Linked DNA regions of Homo sapiens: all the other regions are linked to region 2. The links come from fine-mapping of genetic effects on gene expression. A gene starts in region 2. Each other region holds a variant in brackets. All regions are shown on one strand. Distances are between the middles of the regions.

Region 1 (8,189 bases), 160 kb before region 2:
AATTGATTCATTTTACCAACATTTAAATTTATTACCATAAAATTGTTCATTTCTGTTAATGGTCTAATCTCTGCAGCGTCTCTATTTAGGCCTCATTTTTCCATTTCTAATACTGTTTGTGTCTTTTTTTAAAATTTTGGCAGAACTTTAATCATTTCAAGTTTTATTAATCTTAATGGATGTTTTCAAAGAACCAATTTCTAGATTAGTTTATCCTTTCTGTGCTTTGATTCTGGATTCCATTGATTTTGCTCTTGTGATTTTCTTCCTTCTGCTTTCTTTAGATCTATTTTTAACTTTTTATAATTTTAAAAGAGTTGATGGAAATTCAATTTATTGAATTTGATAGTTTATTCTTGGAACATTTAAGTGTCACTTTTGTATCTCTTGCATCATCTTAAAAGTTTATATTTGATTTATTAATGAATTAGTGATATATTATTTTTCTAAATGCCGTTGATGACCTTTAACATTAAAACAAATTTTAAAAGCATAGTATATCCATATGCATTTTATCAGAAATCCCTAAATCAAAGAAATGTAACCCATTTAGGCACGCGGAATAAAAGATGCTACAGAAATCATCTTTGAGATGTCAAAAGACGAAAGAAAAGATTTCTACAGGACTATAGCATGGGGTCTGAACCGGCCTTTGTTTGCAGTTTATAGAAGAGTGCTTCGCATGTATGATGACAGAAACCATGTGGGAAAGTATGAGAACTTGTAATGCTGCATGTTTTCATGTAATTAGGGGAAATATTTGAGGAACTGTCCATTTTTTTAAACAATAGAAATATGGTCAAGGTATTAATTGTTGTTAATATTTTTATCCTCCAGGTCCATGTTGTGAATATGGTGAAACCTTATTATTAAAGCCTCTTTTAGAAATTAGGATCTAATTCACTTTATATAGGTTAGATTTAAGACTTGGCTTACTTAATATGTCAAAGTCTGCTTTGTAGTAAAGTAACATAAAAAATACAGTAATGATTAAAGATTTAAGAAGTGTGAAAATAACTTGAAATTTATTGGTAACATTTTTCCTATTTATTTTTAGAATATAGCATTCCTAGGTCAGTGGCCTTTTTTTAAATCCAGAATGGAAAAGAACTACATTTCTGAAAACAATGTATGGATTTCTGTTTTAGATAGCATTTATGGGAAGGCATCATTAAGATTCTTCAAATGCAATGATTATATACTGTTACTGACATATTTTTAATTTCTCTTTGGAAATTTTAGGTGGCAGTAGTATGGCTTATTAGATACTGCCGAGCTAATGTTGGAGCTCTTTCTCTAGCTCTTCAGCAGCCTGCTAATGAAAGTACATTTGAAAGCTGAAGAGGATTAAATTATGTTTTTGTGACAGTGGAAAAAGAGAAAAAATTTTAAATGGAGCATAAATGACTTGTTAGCAATTCATAAACTTTCCATGCATTACAAATGGTTACAAAGTGAGCAGCGTTTCATAATTATTAAATGGACATTTTTAAAAAGAACATTACATAGGCTGTATTGAGTACTTGCCTACTGTAATAAAGAGCAAGAGTATGTCAGATGTCCATACCTGGGTAAAGGAAATGAAGATAATCTTAATTTGTTCAGTGCTTTGAGGGAATTTTCTGTAGATTTTCTTTTTAGCTCTAGTTTACAATGTCACCCATAAGTTTTTTTGGAGTAGTTATGATTTGAGAGTGCCAAAATCTAAGTTTGAAATAAAGGAACTGTTAGACAGCATAGGAGCAAATGTATGTTTTAAATGTTGATTCTTTTTCTAGAGAAAATTATACAATCCTTACCTTTATTATAACTAAAAAATATTTACTGTTTAAAAAAAAATAAAAATAGAAGCATTTATTTTCAACTTTTTTTTTTTTTTTTTTTTTGAGACAGAGTCTGTGTTGCGCAGGCTGGAGTACAGTGGCATGATCTTGGCTCACTGCAACCTCTGCCTCGTGAGTTCAAGCTATTCTCCTGCCTCAGCCACTCTAGTAGCTGGGATTACAGGCGCCTGCCACCAGCTAATTTTTCTGTTTTTGGTAGAGATGGGGTTTTGCCATGTTGGCCAGGCTGGTCTCGAACTCCTTGCCTCAAGTGATCCGCCTGCCTTGGCCTCCCAAAGTGCTGGGATTATAGGCGTGAGCCGCACCCTGCCTATTCTCAACTTTTATTAATCCACTTTAAAATGGGTTACTTTAAAAGTATTATATGCTAAGTGACTTAACATTCAGCTCCCTAAATGAAATTCTGATTTTTATTGAGGTTTTTAGCATTCATTGTTTTAATTGATTTTTTAAAAATTTCTCTGAATTTCTAGATATACACCTGAAGAAATTGAGAAGCTCAAGGAGTAAGTTTTAAAGTTTTTTTCATTAATTCTAATTTTTTATGTCTTACGTCCTTAAAAGTTTTACTTTGAAAATTTCAAGAGGTTTTTGGCAGACTGGTATAATTGAATTGTGCTATTAAGCATGATTGGCCTTAAAAAGATCACATCAAATCCATTACTTGCACAAAATAACCATTCTCATAATGTATAATCTGGTCTCCTGATGCCATTCACCAGATGCTTCCTCAGACCACTAATAGGGGTTCCAGAAAAGATTAAGGGGCCATTTTTGGTAGCCTGAAGACTAAATTTGGGGAATTTATATACCAGGATGAAAACCAGGGTTGTGCTACATGGCTTGGTTTAGAATGGTGACTTGGCAAATGTTTCAGTGAATATCTGGGCTGACTCAACCTTGCAAAGGCTATTGAATCTCAGGAAGTAGAATTTTGCTTTATTGAGTTAGACCTTAAAGTATGGTTTAATGAATTGTATGGATCATGAAAAAATTTGAAGGTAGATTCTGTTTATAATGATAAAGACCTGTGAAACTTTAGATGTCTAAAGAAGAGTTTGTTGGGTATATGCTCAAAAGGGAAAGTCTGGGGCTTGCCTGGGAGATTGTGTCAGTAACCTGAGGGGAAATTGGTCTTTTTTGAACACATATCCAAGTTACTTATTTCTTCTCTGACCCAGGAAAAAGGCAATTGCTGCCTGTTTTTTTTTCACCCACAGACAACTGTGGACCCCAAAAAAAGGCCACACTTTCAAACTTTGGCTCTCAAAGTATTGCTGCCCACAACTTCCAAACCAGTCAAATGGGAAGAAGAAGAATGAAGAATAAATGATGAAATTAAAAGGGAGAAAACAATTGAACCAAATGCTGATTGGCAGACTCTTGTTTTAGGCTCCGGATAAAGCATGGCAATGACTGGGCAACAATAGGGGCGGCGCTAGGAAGAAGTGCATCTTCTGTCAAAGATCGGTGCCGACTGATGAAGGATACTTGCAACACAGGTACTGTGACTACTACTGGTAGCGTTTTCTTGTCACCACTTAAGCCTCCTGCCCCTTAGGATACTGCCTTTTCTTTGCTCTTGGGGAGCGATTTAGATCATTCACCTTAGTTCAGACTTTATTTTCTAGTCTTCCTTTTCCTTGAGCTTATTAGATATATCAAACTAATCTTTTA[CT/C]TTGTTTTTGTATAAGGTAACATTGTCTTCAGGGACACAACATCACCTTAGTGTCAAGATGATTCAGATCTAACATGTTTCAGTTTTGTAACAATTTCAATACTTCCCCAGTTGAGAAAGTATTTTGAAGACATACATGCAGCAAGTAATTTTAATTTAGGCCCATCTAACTGTTGAATTTACATTAGCAACAGCTAATCAGTGAGTGTTTATGAAAAACTTTAGTCACAGGTAAGTCCCAAATTAGGAAGAAGCTGTGTTCCAAAGATTTGTAAATATTTTGCTTATTTTAAACTCAAAGTATATTTTTCCATAGAAAAAATTTATGATTGGTGTTTCAGTCCCCTGGCAAGACCACAAATGCCTCTTAATGCATGCAGATGTCCTGATCATACTGTTAAACCTAATCTTTGCGACCAACAACGTATTTAGGCTCTGCTATTAACTGTCATTTAACCTTTCTGAGCCTCACTTCCTTCTGTAAAGTAAAGAGATTAGAGTAGGTGGTCTCATAGTGCCCTTTTAGCCATAATGTTCTCTGAAGGATCCACAATCCATGCCCACTGTTGCAATTAAAAAAAAAATTTCTGAAGTTTAGCTTTAGCTTCCAGGGCATATACATTTTGACCTTAACCCCCTGCTCTAAAAATGAAATCAGAATTCTTTCCTGCTTAACTACTGCACTATCACTGTTACCTGCAGGGCAGTGAGAACATAACTTCTACCAACTTTGTCATTCTGTGACATGGCCAGCTTAATGAAAGAAGCAGGGCTGTAAGCTTTAGATTTAGGATAGGATCTCAGAGTTTCATGTAAGATGCTGTGAGTACAGAACCCCTTTTGGTAACAAAATTTGGAAGGACACAGTGGCATTTCCTGATTGCCAACCTGAGGGATTGATTGATCTGCCTGCTTCCTTCTCATGTTGTGACATACAGCTGCTGATGAGGCCATGCCATGAAACAGCACAGTCTCAAAGTAGTCCCATCCTTTCACAGCATGCTAGAATAGGAGAGTAGAACTTTGTCTTGAATCCATCCACAGTATTCATAATTGTGCTTGGCATATAATGAAAATTCAATAAACATTTGCTAGATGAATGGAATCCCAAAGCAAGCACAGTCTTTTTGAAATTTTCTAGAGGTTTTCAGCTAGTAATAACAAAATGGAAACAGAGGTAAAGAAGATGAAAAAAAATGGCTTTTTTCCCTTTCTGTTTTTCTGCTCTAGCTCCATAAGAAAAAGACAGAGAGGAACATTTGGGGTTATCTATTAGTGGGTTTATGGGTTGAGAAAACACAGGAATAAAAGTAAATACTTGTATCAGACTTTACTAATATTTCATCACAGTAGCTTGGAGTTGGGATAGTGAGGAAACAAGATGGTAGAAACCTAGTTTTTACTAAAATAGGTTGAGCCCATTGGTGTAATTTCCCTTGTCCCTCATCATTCATTCCTATAAGTAATGGCCTCTTGAACTTACTTTTGCAGAGCAGGGAATCTTAGGTGACAGTAAGAAAAAAAGCATGCCATTTCTTGTCTGTCAGCCATTGACGAAGCTCTTCCCACTTCACTGTTTATAAAGGACTTAGTGTAACTTGAGAATACATTCTTCTTTGTAGTTATGTTTTGGGTGGTTTTTCTTTTCATAATTGGTCAGTGCTTTCCATTAGGATTCTTTATTTTCTTTTCTACTGAGACCCTTACTGGGCTAGTAAAATGAAACTGTCTTAGTGGGTATATATGGTTTTCCACCAGAGGGTCATTCAGAAACAAACTCTTAGTACTATTGCTTACTTCCTATCAGTCCTTGTAAATAGAGGGCTGAATCAGATTTGTAAAAGAAGTTAGCAGTGGTAGTCTGGATGATTTCCTTTTTTCAGGGAAGTGGACAGAAGAAGAAGAAAAGAGACTTGCAGAAGTGGTTCATGAGTTGACAAGCACTGAGCCAGGTGACATAGTCACACAGGGTGTGTCTTGGGCAGCTGTGGCTGAACGAGTCGGTACCCGCTCAGAAAAGCAATGTCGTTCTAAATGGCTCAACTACCTGAATTGGAAACAGAGTGGGGGTACTGAATGGACCAAGGAAGATGAAATCAATCTCATCCTCAGGTTTGTGTCCTGAATCTTGTAATGACAAAAGCAACTTAATTTCTGTGGATGTCTTGATAGACTTTCCTCTTTTGGTTTTCCTGGATGCCTAGTGTCTGAAAAGTATCCTTTCCATAGAGCACTACTGTTTAAGATCTTAAGTATTTCATATTGAGCTCTTTTTTTGTGTTGTGTTTGTTCCTTTTTTTTTTTAGTGGGTTTAGTGCTCATGCAAAGTACCAGATTGAAGGCGTGGAGACTGAAGTCCTCTCTATATCCACAGAACAGGTATGGCACAGGCAGCGGCAGTGTAGCTTTTCCACTGTCCCACCAATGTGCCTCAGTCCTAGCCTAGGGGGAACACGTTTAGGATAAGAGGGCTGTTCAGTCTCCATGCCCTTCAATCCTTGGCTACTGTGCTAAGATTGCCAAGAAGGGGGCCCAGTCTGTAGTTACCTCCACACCTCCAAAGTAGACCAAATCAAACACATCCATTTCATACAAATTCAAAAAAGCTTTAAGATATCATAATCCCAGCTTATTTTTTTAAGTAGCTGGTTTAACCATTAAGATTTATTAACTAAAATGGGCAAAAATACTAGCAAGAAATTATTTAAGACCCTGAAGTAATAGAGACTGTCACCATGGCTACTCCCTACCGAAAATCAAATTGTCACAACAAAGCTAGAAAACGAACAGATTTTTTTAAACCTCAAATTTTGTTGTACTGTTGTGTTGTTTTTTGATTGCAGCTATTGCTTTTGTGTTATTTTGTTTTGGATTTTTTTTTCAACTAGTCATCTTTATAAATAGCTCATTTCTAAATATTTTTGCTTAACAATGGAAACGCTCAGATCCAGGAAGTAAATGACTTAGTAAATGCCACACTATGAAACATTGCATATATACAACTAAATCTGTTCTTATTCTAACCTTTAGCATACTCCTTTTCCTTCACAGTGCCTCATCTGGCTCTAACCATTTATAGTTTAGCCCATTGGTTGTACCTTTAATTAAAAGTGGTTGCTGTTGGTATTTCTTAGCTGTTAGCTCTGAAAGCAGATCTGCACTCCTGGAATCCTTTCCCGTGTAACTTAACAATAGCATCTCATTGGCATAACCTGCCATTCCCTTTATTTGCCAGTGCAATTACCTGTAGTCAGAGGAGGGGTTCTTATAGAGAAATTAATTTAATGTCTAACGATGCTTATTTTGTAACTGTAGGATAGCAGAACTTGATGTAGCTGATGAAAATGACATTAACTGGGATCTGTTAGCTGAGGGATGGAGTAGTGTCCGTTCACCACAATGGCTACGAAGTAAATGGTGGACCATCAAAAGGCAAATTGCAAACCATAAGGATGTTTCGTTCCCTGGTAATGTATTACTTACTTTTTAAGCTCCTCCCCTTTTCTTACCATATTTACTCCTTAGGAGTGAGAGGTTAGAAGTTCTTTGCCCCAGCTAGAGATATCATAGCAGATTTCTACTTACACCACTTCCCTGTTTCTCTCAGTAATTGTTTCCTTCCCCAGAGAAGAGTTAATACTGTTTGTAATTCCTAAAGCCCCTAAAATGAAAATGTACACACTTATTCTTGTTCTTCTACGTAAACTATCAGGAGGAAATAAAATCATGCCACATAACGATTTAATTTTTATGTTTTTAGAGACAGGGTCTAGCTTGGTTGTCCAGGCCGACATGCAGTGGTGTGATCATAGCTCACTGTAACCTTAAACCTGTCGGCTCAAGTGATTCTCCCACCTCAGCCTCCTGAATAGCTCGGACTACAGGCACACACCACCATGTCCAGCTATTTTTTTTCGTAGAGATGAGGTCTTGCCATGTTACCCAGGTTGGTCTCCAACTCCTGGGCTCAAGTGATCTTCCCAGCTTGGCTTCCCAATGTGCTGGGATTACCTGCATGAGCCAGCATAGCTGGCCACTCATAACCTTTCAGTCAACAACAGATGTCATACATAGTATTGGTCTCACAATATTAAAATACTGTATTTTTACTTTTTTTCTATGTTTAGATACACAAATATTTACCATTGTGTTACAGTTGCCTACAGTATTTGGTACAGTAACATGCTGTAAGGGTTTGTAGCCTAGGAGCAATAGACTGTATAGATCATCTAGCCTACGTGTGTAGTAGGCTGTACCATCTAGGTTTGTGTAAGTACACTGTGATGATCCCATGACAGAATCACCTAATGGCTCATTTCTCAGAACATATCCCCATCCTTAAGTGATTGATGACTATATTTTTATTTTGTACAAAGATGTACTTCTGAAAACCTAAGTTTAAGTCAACTTTTGTGAGTTGTATAATTTCAAATATCTTAGCTAGGTGTGTTAGAGAAATTCTGTGATAATTTTGTAGAACAAAGGCTCTGTAATTTTCTAATTTTATTAATTATATAAATCTAGAGATCTTAAGTTGGGTTTGCTTAAAGTGAAGCATACTTTTTGTTGCCTGTTTTGCATTTAGGTATTAAACTTAGTTGTACAGTCTGTTTAATTTAGGTTACTAAATTTATTCCCCTTATTATAGCACTCTTAACTTCCATTAT
Region 2 (8,189 bases):
TTGTGTAAAATCATCTTTTGAAGCAGAATCAAGTCTGAAAAGCAACTGATGTTTCCATTAATCTTTTTCTGGGGAAAACCTCAGTTCTAAGGATTTAGCATCCTGTAAGTGAAGTTTAACATAACAGTATTCCATAAGCAGCCTTTTTATGGTCAGACCATTGCCTAATTTTAATATAATTTTAAAATGTGTGCATTAATTAAAAAATGGGAAAAGGATCTTAATAAACATTTCTCCAAAGAGGATATATAAATGGCCAATAAGCACATGAAAAAATACTCAACACTCTTAGTCTTCACAAAAAAATGTAAATCAAAACCACAAGACACCACTTCACATTCATTAGAGTGGCTGTATTTTTTTTAAAAGACAATAGCAAGGGCTGTTATATTGTTATTGTAACTAAAGGCACAGAGAAATTGAAACTCATATTGCTGGCAGATATGTAAAAACGGTACAGTTCCTTTGGAAATCAGTTTGACGGTTTTTGAAAATGTTAAACATAGAGTTAACATACGACCCCACAACTCCACTCCTAAAATACTAATTGAAAGCCTGTTCACACAAAGCTTGTACACAAATGTTTATAGTACCATTATTTAAATAGACAAAAGGTAGAAACAACCCAAATGTCCATGAACTGATGAATGGACAAACAAAAAGTGGTTCATACATTCATCAGTCAGTTGATGAATCATGTTTAATGCCTGTTGGTAACACAGAATTTAGAGCCACTTTGCTTCACTCTTTTCCCAGTCTTGTTATTTATTTCAATGGAAACAAAATGTTCCTGTAAAGATGCCTGGATTTTTGGATATAGAAAAAGTTGTGGGACTGAAAAAAATGAGTGGAACAGAGATTTGAGTATGTAGAAAATAATCTTTTTAAATATTTGAACCAAATGTTCTAAAATTAGCTTATGGTGACTGCATAACCCTGTGAATATAGTAAAACCATTGATTTGTGGACTTTAAATGGCCGAACTTTATGGTATGTAAATTATATTTCAACAAAGATGTTAACAAAATTTTTAAATGTTATATTTTGTTTAGTAAGAAGGTATTTTTTTCTGAGATGCAAAAACATCATAGTTATCTTAACTCTTCCCCTCAGATTTTGGTGGCAACTTTTCATGTACTGTAAATATCATCAAAAGCAACCCCAAATCAATGATTAGTACTAAAAAGAGACCTTTTGTATCAAACACTGTTCATCTGCTGTTGGCAGTGGAGTTCATTTTTAATGCTACATTGCCCTCTTTGCGTCCAGTGTACTTTAATTTGCTGTTGGCTGCTTCCCAAAATGACCATATTTCTACTGCCCCCCCATTAAAAAGAAGAAACATCACAAAATTATTTCTTCAACATGTTCATTTTATACATCAGAATGAAAGGAGGTTACAGGTCTCCCATAGATTAGGGCTATTTACCATATCTCCTTACTTATTAGAGTCACAAATCTTAGCAGGAAGCCAGTTATGCAGATTGAAACATGAACTTCTTAGTCTAGCATTTTAATACTTTTTAATGGTGAAATTTATCTAGACTTATCTATAAAGTCTTTTGCAATTTGTGGTATGCTGAGTAAGAACTACAGAAGAACAAAAATAAAAGATTTTTTTAATGGCAACTTAAAAAATTATCACCACTTGTACTACTTACAAATTTTCCTCCAAAAAGTTACTTTGACTCATAGTCAATTTTTAATCTTGGAACAACTTCTTGCTATCACAAATACTTCAAGTGCCTAAAACATCTTCCTTACCAGCCAATATCTCCCGCTCCACTCTAAGAAATGCAAACTCGTTCAAGTTTAACCTGAATGCAACATAATTTGGAATCTTTCATTAAAATATATATCACACATTTTGAAGCCAAACATATTTTAAAATACCTGTTTTTGGTGATTTGGGGTACATATGCTTATCAGTATAACATATTTTAAAAGATTTTTTTCTACATACTCAAATCTGTGTTCCATTCATTTTTTCACTCCCACACCTTTTTGTCTATCCGATAATTCAGGAATCTTTACAGAAACATCTTGTTTCCATTGAAATAAACAACAAGAGTAGGAAAAAGAGTGAAGCGAAATGGTTCTAAATTCTATGCACCAACAGGCATTAAACATGCATAAACTTTTAAAGAGATGCCAAGACTCACTAAAAAGGAGAAAAAAAATACAACGAAGGTTTCTGAGTAGTTTTTAGTTACTCAATTTAAAAACTTTATCTTGTAAGCAAACTTTAACATCATCCAGAGCATCGCACTTATATATGAAAGAAAAAGTTCTTTATCACACCTTCAGAAATTACAACTACAAATTCCTAATCCCTTATTTAAAATCTTTTTGGCTAGATATGTTTCAAAATTCAGAACTTTTCTTAGAATAGTACGTCTGCCATATATTATGAAACACTTCCAGCAAGCTGTACTGTAATCAAACACAATATTTCTGTAGAAAACTTATGAATATTTACACAAAGGGAACATTCAGTTACACATAGCCTCACTTCCCTTCAGGTCAAACTTTACTGCTAAAGGAGTTAGAAACGACAGACAAAGGAATGGGGCCTGTCATGACATGTTAATTTGAAATCTAAATCTTTATCTTTGATAACTAGTTCAGAGTCAGTGTAAACATTTGGTCTTTCCTTCCACAAAAAAATGAAACAGTGTATTTAAAATTAAAAATGAAACAGTATATTTTATTTCAGAAGGTAAAAGCAAAATGAATTAATCTGTGAAACTAAGTCAATCACATTATGATCTTCTAGAACTTGGGTAGCTCCACTCTGGTTAAAGATTCCATTTCTTGGCACAACAGTAAAAGACATCAGATAGGCCCGGGGGTAAGCATCCCTGGGGTATTCAAATAACTTGGGTAGCAATGAAGAGCTGCAGAAGAGCAAGGAGACCCGAGATGATGTAGTGTGCTGCGGCATACCTGAGTTGGGCAAACTCAGCCTCCGAAGATTAAAGGAAAGAGCCCAAGTAGGAATCTGTGTGATCACTGTTCTTTTGCCAAGACACGGGGTGGACAATAAGATTCCTTTACAAAGCACTGGTGTAAGTGTTCGCCTGGTGCTGCAAAAAGCGGCTCACTGGGAATGGGGAGGAGCGTGTGGTAAGCCAGACCTGCGGCGAGAAGTTGGGTGAAAATGGGTCTTAACCATCGCTTCCTGCATCTATCCCAGAGGGTTGGGTACCTTCGTGGGCGGAGCGCGGCCTGCCCAGAGTGCCTTCTAGATCCTGGGTCAGGCGCCAAGCTCCCCAGCATCATGCAGGAAGCTGCAGCCCCGCAGAGTTAGGACAGCTCATTTGGCACCCGGCGAGCCCTTCCCAGGCCCGCAGCCCAGAATAGAGCCGGGGCCCAAGACGCCCACTGGAGACAGGGTCGGGTCCCACTACCGCGCAGGCCCGGCTCGCCCCCGACGTCAGGCACGGGGCGGGACCCTTGCAGCTGTCCGTCCAGTCCCGTTCCCCGGAAAGTGAGGGGCGGGACCCTCGCGGCTTTCTATCCAATCCTGTTCCCCGGCGAATGCGGGGCGGGACCCTAGCGGCCTTCAGTCCAATTCCCGCACCTTTGAGGCCCAAGGGGGAGCGAGCCGGTGCTGCTGCAGGCTGAGGCTGCGGCAGAGGCGGCGAGGCGCGGGCGGTGAGGACGGACAGGTCCGTTGAAGCAGCATTCCCTCCCTCCCCTAATCCTTCAACTCGGGGGCGGGGGAAAGTTAAGTCGTGCAGAACCGCAAAGGTGCCTGGATTTGGTGGGGGAGTAGTGTCATCAAGCATCTCGCCTGCTGGGGTCTCAGGGGTACCCTCAAGGTTGGGCCGCGGGGCTGCTCCGTTGTAGTGCTTAGATTTCTCTCACTTGATGGCCTCTTGAGTGCAGAGTTGCTCTTGGGTTGGTGGGAAGAGCCTCCGAGCTCTCATTGCCCTCTGCTCCTGCTTCTACCCCTTGCCACTCTGCGACGAACCTGTTACCCAGCCACTGAAAACGTATCCTCTACCCTTTGAACCCGTCTAATGGAAGGTGTACTTGTCTGAAACCTACTTAATTGTATGATCATTTACTCCTGCTCTCTAGCAGGTGGACTATTTGCGTGTGTTTGCAGTGATTCACGAAAAGTTTGTCTTGGGAACTCCCAACTCCTAGTTTGTCTGCATTCCACCTTCTTTCACTAGCTTGTTCATTTCTTTTTCCCTCTTAAATATTTGTTAAGCTTGTTTCTTTCTTCCCACAGTCACCGACTTAGTCCAGTTCCCTGTGATCTCAAAACAATTGTTGCAGCAGGCTCCTGGCAGTCTCAAGCAGTTCATCTTCTTGGTGTACTGGTATGTGACAATTCCTTCACGTATTGTTCGTGGTTCTTTTCCACTTTCTGTGAATTCATATCTAATTGCCCCCAGAAAGTCAATTCTAATTAAATCTAGCATAATCATTTTCTTAGTGCTATTGGAACCATCTTATTTAACTTAATCTTTGTGGTTGAGAATTCAAGAAAACTCTTCAAGAAAGAATCCAATAATTTATATTTTTAATGTGTACCGGTTGGTGGGTTAAGCACTATAGTGGGTATGTAACTAATACTCTTGCTTCCAGTTTTCTAGAGTCTATTAAGTGGCACAGAGGTAAACAGAATAGCTTATCTTCTCTGTATGTGTGTACTAGTCTTCTATTGCTGCCTTAACCAATTACACAAATGCAACAATTAAAACAACACAAATGTATTATCTCATAGCTTCTGTAAATGTGAAGTTTGGGTGGGCTTAGCTGAGTACTTGGCTTAGAATTTCACAAAACCGAAACCAAGGTTTCTGTAGATTTGGATTCTTTTCTGGAGGCTCTAGGGGAGAATCCACCTCCAGGCTATTTCAGATTGTTGGTAGAATTCACACTGACATTTCTATATCCTTACTGTTTGTCAGCCTGAGCCTCTTTCAGTTCTTTAAGGCCATCTGCATCTTCAAAGACACCACAAATCCTTCTCAAGCATTAAAGCAGTCTTACTTGTCTGCCACTGGCCAGAGAAAGCTCTTTGCTCTTATGGACTCAAGTGATTAGATTAGTTCCAATTCGATAATATCCCTATTTTAAGGTCAGTTCTGTAGAGAATATCACAATCACAGGAGTAATGATCTCACCATATTCGCAGGTTCTGGGGATTAGCAGGGGTGGAATCTTGGGGGCCATTCATAGTAATTGTGCCTACCACAATATGGTGGTTTCAGGCAGGATTATTTTGTTTTTATAATGTGCTTTCACAGGCATTGAAAACAAATTCTGACTTTATTGAATTGTATGATTAACCACTCTAAGATAAGGAAATTCACTTAAAGTTGGTTGCCCTAGGGGCACATGGCTAGAAAGTGGCAGAGTCTGTACTTGGATCCAGATCTACATTTCCATTAGGTACAAACCCATTTTTATGGATGGTCAAAATGGTGTGCAGCCAAAGTCAATAGATAGAAAGAAGCTAAAGAACTTTGAGTTAATTATTATTTCTCATTTTCAAATTATCTCTTTATATTAGTGGTACAGGCTAAGCTCTTCTCCCTACAATAGAAAGCCCAAAATACAATGGTATGAATAAAATAGAAGTTTTTTTTTTTCCATACATCTAGAGGTAGGAGTCCAGGACTAGTAGGGAGATTCTGCAATCCTGCATATATGACTTCCATAAATGAGGCCATGGTGCTGTTTAGTTCGTCACTACCTAGCAGGTAGTAAAAAGGAGGGAAAGTGCAGGGAGAACACATGCATTCCTTTTTGGGAGCATGACCTGGAAGTGACACACACAAGGTCATCACAAAGCCACACTGAGCTCCAAGAGAGGGTAGGAAAGATAAAACTGGGGGCTGTATGCACAGCTACAACTCAGGATTCTGTTAAAGCAGAGGAAAACAGGTATTAGCTGAAAATAGTCTCTTCTGTGTCCATGTTTTTGATAGTGTTCGATTCTGTAACCTATGAGTGGAATACTTTGTTTAGCGTTGCTATCAGTTTTAAAAAATAGTTTTTGAGAGAATAGGAAGTTCAAATTCAATATTAACGTTCTTTGATTTCTCAGTTGCTATTTTAACATATAATTACATTTAATATATTACATTATTTAATATAATTAATATATGATAATTTACAAAGGCTTTGAGAAACCTCATTTTTTATTTAGCATTTGTATACCTTATTCACATTTTGAGTTAGATTTCTTTGATAGCAATTAATACACGTGTCAATATGTTCAAGATTGCTTTGGAACACTTGAGACCATTCTGTGTAGACCTCATACGACCTGTGCAATTAAAGCAGCTTGTCATATGATTTATGTATTCTATAATAATCTTTAATTCTACAGTTGGACACTTCCACACCTCTTTGTACTTTGTGCTCCAAAGTTTTCTATATCAATGCAATATCAACACATAATCCTTTTCTATACATCAAATACTATCTACCCACTAAGATTTACTGCAGGTTCCCTTACCTTCTATCATGTTGTTTTGTATAGGGGAAAGATTGTAGTCTTAACAGATCTGGGTTTGGGTCCTGTGTTTGACATTAGGTAAGTTACTAAATTTCTGAGTTTTGATATATTCATATGTAAAATTGCAAAGAATGCCACCTTTCAGAGATAACATAAAAGTTAGAGAGCTAACACATGTTTTCTGTAATGCAAACTGGAGTACCTGGCAAATGCTAGGTGTTCAATAAATGGTAACTAATTATACCAGTCCCACTGATCACTCTTTACTTCTAGCACTTTGTGTCTACACATTCTTTTTAAGTTGGTTTTCTCTATCTGACAGATTTATAAATTTCATAAAAGCTGGTACCAAGTCCTAGATATGCTGTGGTCCCTAAATACTGGTTTAGTGAATTGTGAATTGTACCTAGGATACGTAACACTATCTATGAGATTGAAGTTGTGAGGGCTCTCTCTCTTTTCTTTAGGTTTCCTATTGTGATTTTATCATGGAAAATCAATTGGCTAAATCAACTGAAGAACGAACATTTCAGTACCAGGATTCTCTTCCATCACTGCCTGTTCCTTCACTTGAAGAATCATTAAAAAAATACCTTGAATCAGGTATGTTAATAATCTTTTAGTATATATTAATATTATTAGTAACTTAGAAAACTGTGATACTGTTGCTGGAGAAGGGGTCTCGATCCAGACTCTAAGAGAGAGTTAGAGTTCTTGGATCTCTTGCAGGAAGGAATTCAAGGTGAGTTGCAGAGTGCAGTGAGAAGAGACAGTTTATTGAAAGCTTCTCCATTATAGAGTAGGACATCCTCAGAAAGCAAGCAGACTGTCTTTAAGTTTTTCTTACATAGGGGTCTTATCGATGTAAAGACTAAGCTGTGCCTATGTGAGGGTGAGCAGACAGCATGACAAAATTTATTATTCTGTTGATTTAAAGAAAACAATCCTTGACATTTTAGTGCATGAATACATCAAAGAATTATGTTAATCATCTCAAAAACATATATTGTTATGGGTATTGAGACATCTGGACTTTCTACTGTTGTAGGAGTGTGTCATTGTAAGTATCTTTAGGTTGTTTCCTCAACTGTAAATATCTTATGACTGGGTCATGACTGGCAAGGAACGTGCCTTGCTAGTCTCAAGATGGAGCTGAATTTAAAATGGTGTTACTCTGGCTCTCCTGAGCTCCTGCTTCCCCAACATTTCCCCCTCTACTTATGAGAGAACCCTTAACCTTAAGGGGAGATAAAGGGTGAAGGTTGTTCTTTTGTAACTCCTTCCTGGAGGCAGTAGATGTTGATGGTTGGGACAGGGTCTTCTCATAATAGTGTGCAGTGAGCCTCTTCAGGGAGTAAGGGAGCTCCTTGCTTGCATGATATCCCAATTGTTTCTAGAAAGTTAATATACTAGGTTAGTAAATAGAAAGGTGAAACAGCTGCTAAACTATTTTATCTTGCAACCCTATACAATAAACACAACAGAAATAAAAGCACAATAACTAATAACAATGAATATTATAATACCAAGCATACTGAAAAGAAATGCTTTCCAAGTGCTGGAAAGCTCATGAAACTATGCTGTTATGGGGTCATAAGACCGGGAATCCATAGCCAAAATACAAGTTTCTAGAGAACTCATGTCCTGGGATATATTATGGCAGTAATCAGGAACATAATATTCAGTTTTGTTCAAGACACAAGTT
Region 3 (8,189 bases), 100 kb after region 2:
CCTTTTATACATTGTATATGTTTCACAAATGGTCTAACCACATGCTATTTTCTTATCCACACTCATAATTATGACTTGTATATACTAGAAAGTCAGCTCTGCCCACTGGACAGTGGAAAGATTCACCAAAAACAAAAACCTATAATCATGTTCATCTTTCAAAAAGGAGCGATATCAAAGAAAAGAGAAGGTAGATGGAGAAATAAGATTTTCATATTCTTCATAAATGTTAGGAGAACTACTTACTGTCATTGCATTTCCAATAGTATATTCTTTTGATATGACTAGAGTGGATCCATACCAGAAGGCCAGTGCATATGATGCATATATTAACAGGAAGGCAATACCCATGGAAATGTTTGCTGAAATAGCTTTTTTAATTCCAATCTCTTTGGCATTTTCTAAATGTTTCTGATACCTACCAGAAAAATGAGAGGGAAAACATTATAATTAAGAATAACAATCCATAGTCCGAGTCACACTCGGCTCCTATATAGTTGGAGGTTTAAGTAACAAAGTCAGTCAAGGTAATGAACCCATGGTGAGACCCAGATCTTTGGGAATTGAACTAATTCAGGATCAGCCAGGCCTAGAACAGATCCAAGCCTTCTCTTTACTGGCCCGGTTCCATTTCCCTTCATCCATTCCAAGCCAACCAACATTCCTGTGGTTATTCCAGAATTGAGGGCTCACCCTGGGATATGGAAGAGCTTCTCCATCACCTTCACGGCAATATCACAAGTCAGGGTTAAGAGGGAATGAGAGAAACCAAGCCAAACCAGAATTGATTGTAAATGTCACTGGAACTCATAAACAGTTAGATTCTTAACTCTGGTCAATGTCTCTTCTCTGGAGAAAAGAAAATCGTCCCTCTATTGTCCACTGGGTGAGGGATGAAAATTTTACATGTTGTTGTACATAAACATAGGCTTCTCTCTTTGACTTTTTTAAAAATCAGGCTGACCTTCATCTGTCAAGCTAGATACAGGTTATAAGGTAGTCACTACTTATGGAATATGAGTTCTTATTCAATTTTTCCAGACTTTAGTTTCATATATGAAAAATGGATTTAATAATGCCTAATTTGCAAGATAATTGTGAGGTTGGTAGATAATTGTAGAAAGTAGTACAGTAGCTGGTTCATAGTTAGCAAGCCTGATCATTTCTCTTACTATTATATTAGTATCATTGTGTTCAACTTTTATCTCTTCCTGAGTTTTGCTCATTCTATTACTATCATATCTTTGAATCATAATTCAAATGCATTATTACTGGCTGCTGGCATTTGATATAAAGTTTAAAATATCTAGAATGATTCTGTTAAATTACAATTTTTTTTCATCAAGTTAAATCAAATCTACTTTTTCATACTAGACCCAGAGGGTATGTAAAATTTAATTTGGGCTCCCTGAAATTTAAAGAAAAATCCAATGGGTATGCAATGACACTTCGAGGGGAAAATATCACACAAACTAGGATATTTTTCTTTGTGACAAAAAAAAACAAAAAACAAAACACAGCAACACCAGTTTTAGTGTTGAACCAAATAAAACATGAGAATTCATTAGTCTTTTAAAAAACATATTCTGCCATCAGAAGGTTTGTCTTTTTTATTGCGTAAAGCACCCAGGTCTTCAGGGTGCTTTCCTCTGGTTGGGGGCTGCATTCATAGAGCACAGCTGCATCTCTGGGGGTAGCCAGCAGGCCACAGCTAGCGCTGTGATTTCTCCTGTGTGGCTGAGCCTCAAGGCGTGGCAGGAAGACTTGCATCTGCCCAGTGTGACACACAGCTCCAGTGACAGCAGCGGACACACTGTAATTACCTTTGCTTAGGTGGCTCGCTTACCGGGGCTAATGGAGCGGCACAGATTACACTGACATCCTGAGGTCCAACTGAGGGTTAGTGTGGTCTGTGTGGACTATTATGTACAGGAAGCAGCAGTGAGAGAGAAAAAAGGAAGAGGTTAGAGGATCAGAAACATGTTGGCTTTGAAGAGGGATTAAGGAATAGAAAAGTAGAAAATTAAATGGGGGGAATAAGGGAAACTTTGTTTTTAATGCTAGAGAATTTCCAGAGAATTTTTATATCCAAGAGTTGTGAGTATCAAGAGTCCCATAGAATAGCCAAAGAAAATACTTTATATGGAATCATACTTCAACTACAGTAGGGGATATTGTTATTTAAATAAAACCCTAAGTAATTATTTTCATTTAAGTAGAGCAGAATAGCCTTTTTCATAGGTGTATTCTTATCCCCAAACTCATTGAGATATACACACTAAAGATGTATACACAGCTTTTCATATGTCAATCATGCCTTGATAATTTTTTCAGAGAAGAGTTTGCAACATGCCTCCAGATACTGGTCAATTTTCCAGGCTTATCCTGGATCATTAAAGTTGAATGCCAGAGGCCTGGGTGGGAAGCCCTGCCTCATTGTTATGGAGGACCCACAAGGCCCTACAAAGAATTCTGGGCTATAACTAGGAAGTCGATGTTTTCTCAGGTTTTTCTCTTCTATATTCCAGTTCATAGTCATTAAGGAGTAAAATAAAATAAAAAATATTTTGATAAGTATTTTTAATATAATTATTTTCCTTTGTAACCCTACTTATTTTGTTTTTTGGGGCTTTTATTTATTTATTTTTTGGTTTTTAAAAAATTTTTACTCTTTTTTTGTGATAGAGGCTCACTCTATCATCCAGGCTGGAGTTCAGCTCACTGCACCCTTGACATTCTGGGCTCAAGGGATTCTCCTGCCTCAGCCTCCTGAGTAGCTGGGACCACAGGTGCACACCACCACACTCAGCTTATTAAAAAAAAAAAAAATTGTAGAGCCAGGGTCTTACTACATTGCCCAGGCTGGTCTTGAGCTCCTGGATTCCAGCTACCCTCCTGCCTTGGCTTCCCAAAGGGCTAGCATATTTTGGTTTATGCATTTAAAAACAAGGGAGTCCATTTGTATTATCACATAGCCAAAAGAGTCCATGGAACATAAATGATTAAGAATCTTGCTTTAGAGTCTGACATTCAACTATAGCCATCAGTAAAGGGTGCTTATAATTTATGCGAGAAGGGTTAATATTAGGAAAGGGAAGGTAAAAAACACATACCACAAAGAAGAAGCAACAAAATGTAAAAACACATTCCTTAAACCAGTGGCTAAAGAACCTTCCTGACCTTTCCAGCTCTTTGTTCTGGCCCCCGAAAGCTATCACAGTCCTGATGGCCCCCAGAGCCTCTTCTGCCACGGCGCCTGCTTTTGCATAAGCAGCTAGTTCTTTGTCACTAAATGCCGAGAGTATCTGGACAGAAAAGAAACAGTGATCACTTTTGTATAGGGAGAAAAGTTTAAAGGCACTCTGGTCAACCCTTTAACCTACTTTTTCTTCCCAAACCCTCTCCTTTAACAAATATTAAAGTCATGTAGCAAATGCCAGTGTTCTGGATCCAATGGCTGCGTCCACATCCCTCAAAGGCTATATCTGACCCACCCTGGTGATAGGCTCCCCAAGAGTACTCAGGAAAAAAGAAAATCCACACATAATTCTCTAAATAGCACTCTTGGGAACACTGTCAAGTTCCACATCTACTGTTTTTCTTTGTTAGTTGTAAGGTAAAATAAAATAAAACTTTACTGCTTTGAAAGAATTTACCATTCTTAACTTTATTGTGTCACAATTTTTTTTTTTTTTTTTTTTGAGACGGGGTCTCACTCTGTTGCCCAGACTGGAGTGCAGTGGCACGATCTCGGCTCACTGTAACCTCTGCCTCCCAGTTTCAAGTGATTCTTCTGCCTCAGCCTCCCGAGTAGCTGGGACTACAAGTGCACACCACCACGCCTGGCTAATTATTTGTATTTTTAGTAGAGACAGGGTTTCACTGTGTTAGCCAGGATGGTCTCAATCTCCTGACCTCGTGATCCACCCACTTTGGACTTGTGTCACAATTTTTAATTACTATAAAAACAATACTTCCAGACCTCCTCATGGGCATTCTGCTGAATAATAAGATAGCCAAACAAGATGTTTCAGGAGAAAAGCAAAGGAAGAATCAAAACAAAAGAGATACAGGTAGTTCACTGTG[T/C]AAATCATCAACGTCAGGATGAGCAAAAATTGCCAGTAAAATTTCTCAACTCTGAAGTGTTGGCTAAAGTAGAATACATTTTGTGTATTTTATTGCCAGGCAAAACTGGCAGAGTGCCACTTAACCATCACAGGTAATGATTAAAACAAATAGAACAAATACAAACTCTATTTAAAATTTTTATGTTCATGCAATAATTTGAGGGAAATGTTATATTTTAAAGTTGCACTTCCTTAACTAAGGGTAATCGAAGTAAGAACTGTGAATTTTTTTTTTTTTTGAGATGAAGTCTTACTCTGTCACCCAAGCTGGAGTGAAGTGGCATGATCTGGGCTCACTGCGACCTCCACCTCCTGAGTTCAGCGATTCTCCTGTCTCAGCCTCCCAAGTAGCTGGGATTACAGTCATGCACCACCACGCAAGGCTAGTTTTTCATATTTTTAGTAGAGACAGAGTTTTGCCATGTTGTCCAGGCTGGTCTGGAACTCCTGACCTCAAGTGATTTATGTACCTTGGCCTCCCAAAGTGCTGGGATACAGGAATGAGTCACCACACCCAGCCTGTGACATTTTGAATTATGTTAAAAATTAATTTCCTTATGAAAGCATCATATTAACACCATGTTACTGGATGTAGTTTCAACTGACATTTAATGTAGACCTGAACAGGTACAAGTACGAGACTTCTGCATATTAAAGATTACTGTGTGCAGGGGTTAACACACATAAAAAGGCCCAGCTTTCACATACCTTTGCCCAAACGGCTGCAGAGAGTCCTAGAATAGGGCTGATGGCCATTATCACAAGGGTGAGCTTCCATCCTCTGATGAATCCCACTATGAATCCTGCAAAAAACGTGGCTACTGCTTGAAAGAACATTCCAACCTTGTCACCAATTCCTTCACTGATTTTGGAGATGTCACTAAAAAAGATCACACCTAAGTGGTTACAGGCAGGAGGTTTCAGTTAGAAAGATGAAGTAGACATCCAACAAACACATAGACAAGTAAAATTTGTTCACTGACTGCAAGCCTCTTTCAGAGTCTTAGCCTCTTGAATAACATCTTCCCCACCTAAACACCGCACAAAGGAAGAAATTCAGGATTGATCAATGCTTCTAATAAGTTAGTATCATTAAGTTGATACTATTAAATGAGTCAATCCTATGAGAGAAGCATTAACATTTTGAGCATAAAAATGTATCTGTTTAAAAGCAAGAATTAAGAAGAACATTGCAACAATAATAAGCAACAGTAGTAGGGAAGTATTACTGCATTTCTTCTTATAGGGAAGTAATAGGGAAGAGATCTTTGCTTCTACTCTTGTCCCTATTCCCAACCAAGTCTATTCTCAACACAGCAGCCAGTGGGATGCTTTGAAAATGCAAGTCTGACCATGCTACTCCTCAGCTCAGAAACTTCCAGCGGCTGCCATTTCACTGGGTGAAAGCTGAAGTCTTGAAGTCTTTGTGGAGGTTTACAAGGCCCTAAATGTCTTGCTTTTCCCTTTTTTTTTTTTTTTTTTTTGACTTATTTGCTCAGGATGCCTTTGCCAGGACTCCCAGTCAGGAAAGTTTATCATCTATCTCCCTCTACTGGAATGTAAGCACCAAAAGGACAGAGATCTGTGCTTTGTTCACTGATATATTACGAACACACAGAATGGTACTTCGCACATGAAACACCCTCAAATATTTGTTGAATAAGTGAAGAGTTGACAATTACTAAAGCAAGTCTCTTTGTAAATTAATTCAATCATCTATTCATTGATTCAACCATCTTTACTGACAGTCTAGCACCTGTCACGTCCTGCAGTAGAAAGTTCCATGAGAAATAAACAGGTATAAGATGTGAATTCAGTCCTCAAATAAACCTACTATGCACCTTGGGGGAAAGCCAACATGCAATGGCATAGGCTATAGATGCTGCTAGACATGGCTGCCAGATGATCGATTTCTAATATAGATCAGATGCTCAATCTAGTAACATTTTTCATTTAAAATCTTTCCTTGACATATTTTCACACAGTAATTAATTTCTATATGAAAGTGTGACATTAACAATGTACCTACTCTGTTAGCCGCGTATTGAGTTCAGTGGTGTCGTTGATGTCAAACCATCCTATTTCCTGTCGTAGAATAGCATGAAAAAACTTCTGCCTAATTTTCCTGATCTGTCGACCAGCTGCCAAAGTCCAAAATGAAACTTGTATATAGGCAGCAACAAGAACTCCAGCACCCAATCCTGAGTAGTAATATGCATATCTGAAAAAAAAGAGAAAGGCTCTATTAAATACCTTCTCTTTTCTTTTTTCTTTTCTTTTCTTTTCTGAAACTGAGTCTCACTCTGTCACCCAGGCTGGAGTGCAGTGGCACCATCTCAGCTCACTGCAACCTCCGCCTCCTGGATTCAAGTGATTCTCCTGCCTCAGCCTCCCGAGTAGCTGGGATTACAGGCATGCACCACCATACCTGGCTAATTTTTGTATTTTTAGTGGAGATGGGGTTTCACCATGTTGGCCAGGCTGGTCTCGAACTCCTGACCTCAAGTGATCTGCTCACCTCCGCCTCCCAAAGTGCTGGGATTATAGCATGAGCCACCACCCCCACCCTACCATCCTTTATTCATCTCTTTCAGGAGAAATTTTCAGAACTGGAAATTAATCAATTTACTAAACTTAAAACAAAAACTGTATAGGACATTATAACAAACAGACATTACATTTTTCTTTTTTTAAATTATAAAGTGATGAGCTCCATGATGGCAAATCTATTTACTTGAACTGTTAGCCAAAGAAAATGGATAAATTTTTGTTGTTAACTGCAAAAAAGTTAATGATTTGTTTTTAACTGATATTGATAACTTGTGGATACAATTTAACTCCTCTTTAATAATTATATTCTAGACTTGTATATCTTATTGTACTGAAAAGTTCACTACTATTTACATATTGCAAATATAGTAATAAGCAGATTGAACATGTGAAATCGCCCTTTCCATATTGATTTTTCCACATTCTTTATAAAAAGAACCAAAAAACTTTGTTCCTATTTGTCAGAATTTGAAATATTTTAAAAAAAGATATGATAAAATGTCATGAATTCAAACGAATTTGGAATGTTTTACCAAATTAGTAGAAAGTTAGTATTTTAAAAAATAATAAGTACATATCAATACTTTCAAATTTTTATTATCTAATTTTATAAACTGCTTCCAGATAGACACCTTTCAGGCCTTTTAGCATACAGACAGCACTCGTTACAATCAGCAACACTGCTATGCAGACATACAAACATCATGCTTACAGGCTTTAGAGATTTCTATTGAGAAACTAGAAGGAGGAGAAAATGCCATAAATGACATTATTGGATCAAATGACAAAATTGGAATATAGATGTTATATTAGATAAAAGTACTGAAATTTACTGAAGCTAATAGCTGTACTGTGATTATGTAAGAAAATATCCTTATTCTTAGGAGTCATACTGCAGTAAAGGGCCATGATGTGTGCATCTTACTTTAAATTGGGATTTGGGAGCAAAAATGATAATAATAGGTGAATCTGGGTAAAGAGTACACGTTATTTGTATATTCTTATAACTCTGTAATTGGAAATTATCTTCAAATGAAACTTTAAAAAAGTAGACCATATATATGAGTTACCTAGTCATTTCTTCTTCCAGAATTTTGCCTGGATTTAGCAGCGACAAGGAAAAGTTCACTAAATTAAAAAATAAAATAAAACATGTTAAAAGATCAAACTATTAATAGGCATTGCCAGGTTTTTAAAAATCTGTTAATAATTTAAATGTATGAAAGCTAGAAGATGCTATTGTTAAGTTTCTCTTTAAAAAACACTTTTCTTTGCACACTTAAGTGCATTCTTTTCACTTTACTCAAGTAAAGAGCCCAAGGGTTTAGGTACTGGACATTAAGGGCCAAGAAAGGGGAAGATAAGCCCTCCCAGGTCTTTCCCCCATCCTGGCGGTCTCAGCCTTTAGCAAAGCAGCCTTCTAAGGAGGCACAGAGGAGCCACTGAAGAGACAAGGAAGCCACAAAACACACAGAAGACAGAGGAGGGAATAAGAAATATTTAAAATAGAAA

Which allele goes with the higher level. Positions count from the first base shown, and alleles are read on the strand shown. Sizes are in standard deviations (SD) of each study's normalised expression. Not every link is listed here.
For the expression in unexposed skin of the gene that starts at base 3,396 in region 2, allele T in region 3 goes with a higher level than allele C (large effect, 1.2 SD a copy in GTEx).

The links.
Region 1: its variant is fine-mapped to the expression of TP53TG1 in whole blood (INTERVAL, PIP 0.99).
Region 3: its variant is fine-mapped to the expression of TP53TG1 in unexposed skin (GTEx, PIP 0.94).

Annotation. Positions count from the first base shown.
Region 1 is chr7:87,178,992-87,187,180 of GRCh38, forward strand. DMTF1 (cyclin D binding myb like transcription factor 1) reads left to right here. Exons shown (of 18, transcript NM_001142327.2): 8 at 554-711; 9 at 2,318-2,350; 10 at 3,237-3,346; 11 at 5,406-5,634; 12 at 6,838-6,989. Among named protein-coding and RNA genes, the nearest start is that of DMTF1-AS1, 31 kb to the left of the region's middle. The variant CT/C (reference allele first, on the strand shown) is at 3,522.
Region 2 is chr7:87,342,097-87,350,285 of GRCh38, forward strand. TP53TG1 (TP53 target 1) reads right to left here and starts at 3,396. Exons shown (of 3, transcript NR_015381.1): 1 at 2,947-3,396. It overlaps CROT (carnitine O-octanoyltransferase), which reads left to right and starts at 3,568. Exons shown (of 18, transcript NM_021151.4): 1 at 3,568-3,671; 2 at 4,244-4,334; 3 at 6,952-7,087. The coding sequence starts at 6,973. RefSeq lists a silencer at 3,384-3,593.
Region 3 is chr7:87,446,788-87,454,976 of GRCh38, forward strand. ABCB4 (ATP binding cassette subfamily B member 4) reads right to left here. Exons shown (of 28, transcript NM_000443.4): 5 at 7,748-7,805; 6 at 6,157-6,348; 7 at 4,836-5,007; 8 at 3,181-3,305; 9 at 247-418. Among named protein-coding and RNA genes, the nearest start is that of ABCB4, 25 kb to the right of the region's middle. The variant T/C (reference allele first, on the strand shown) is at 4,087.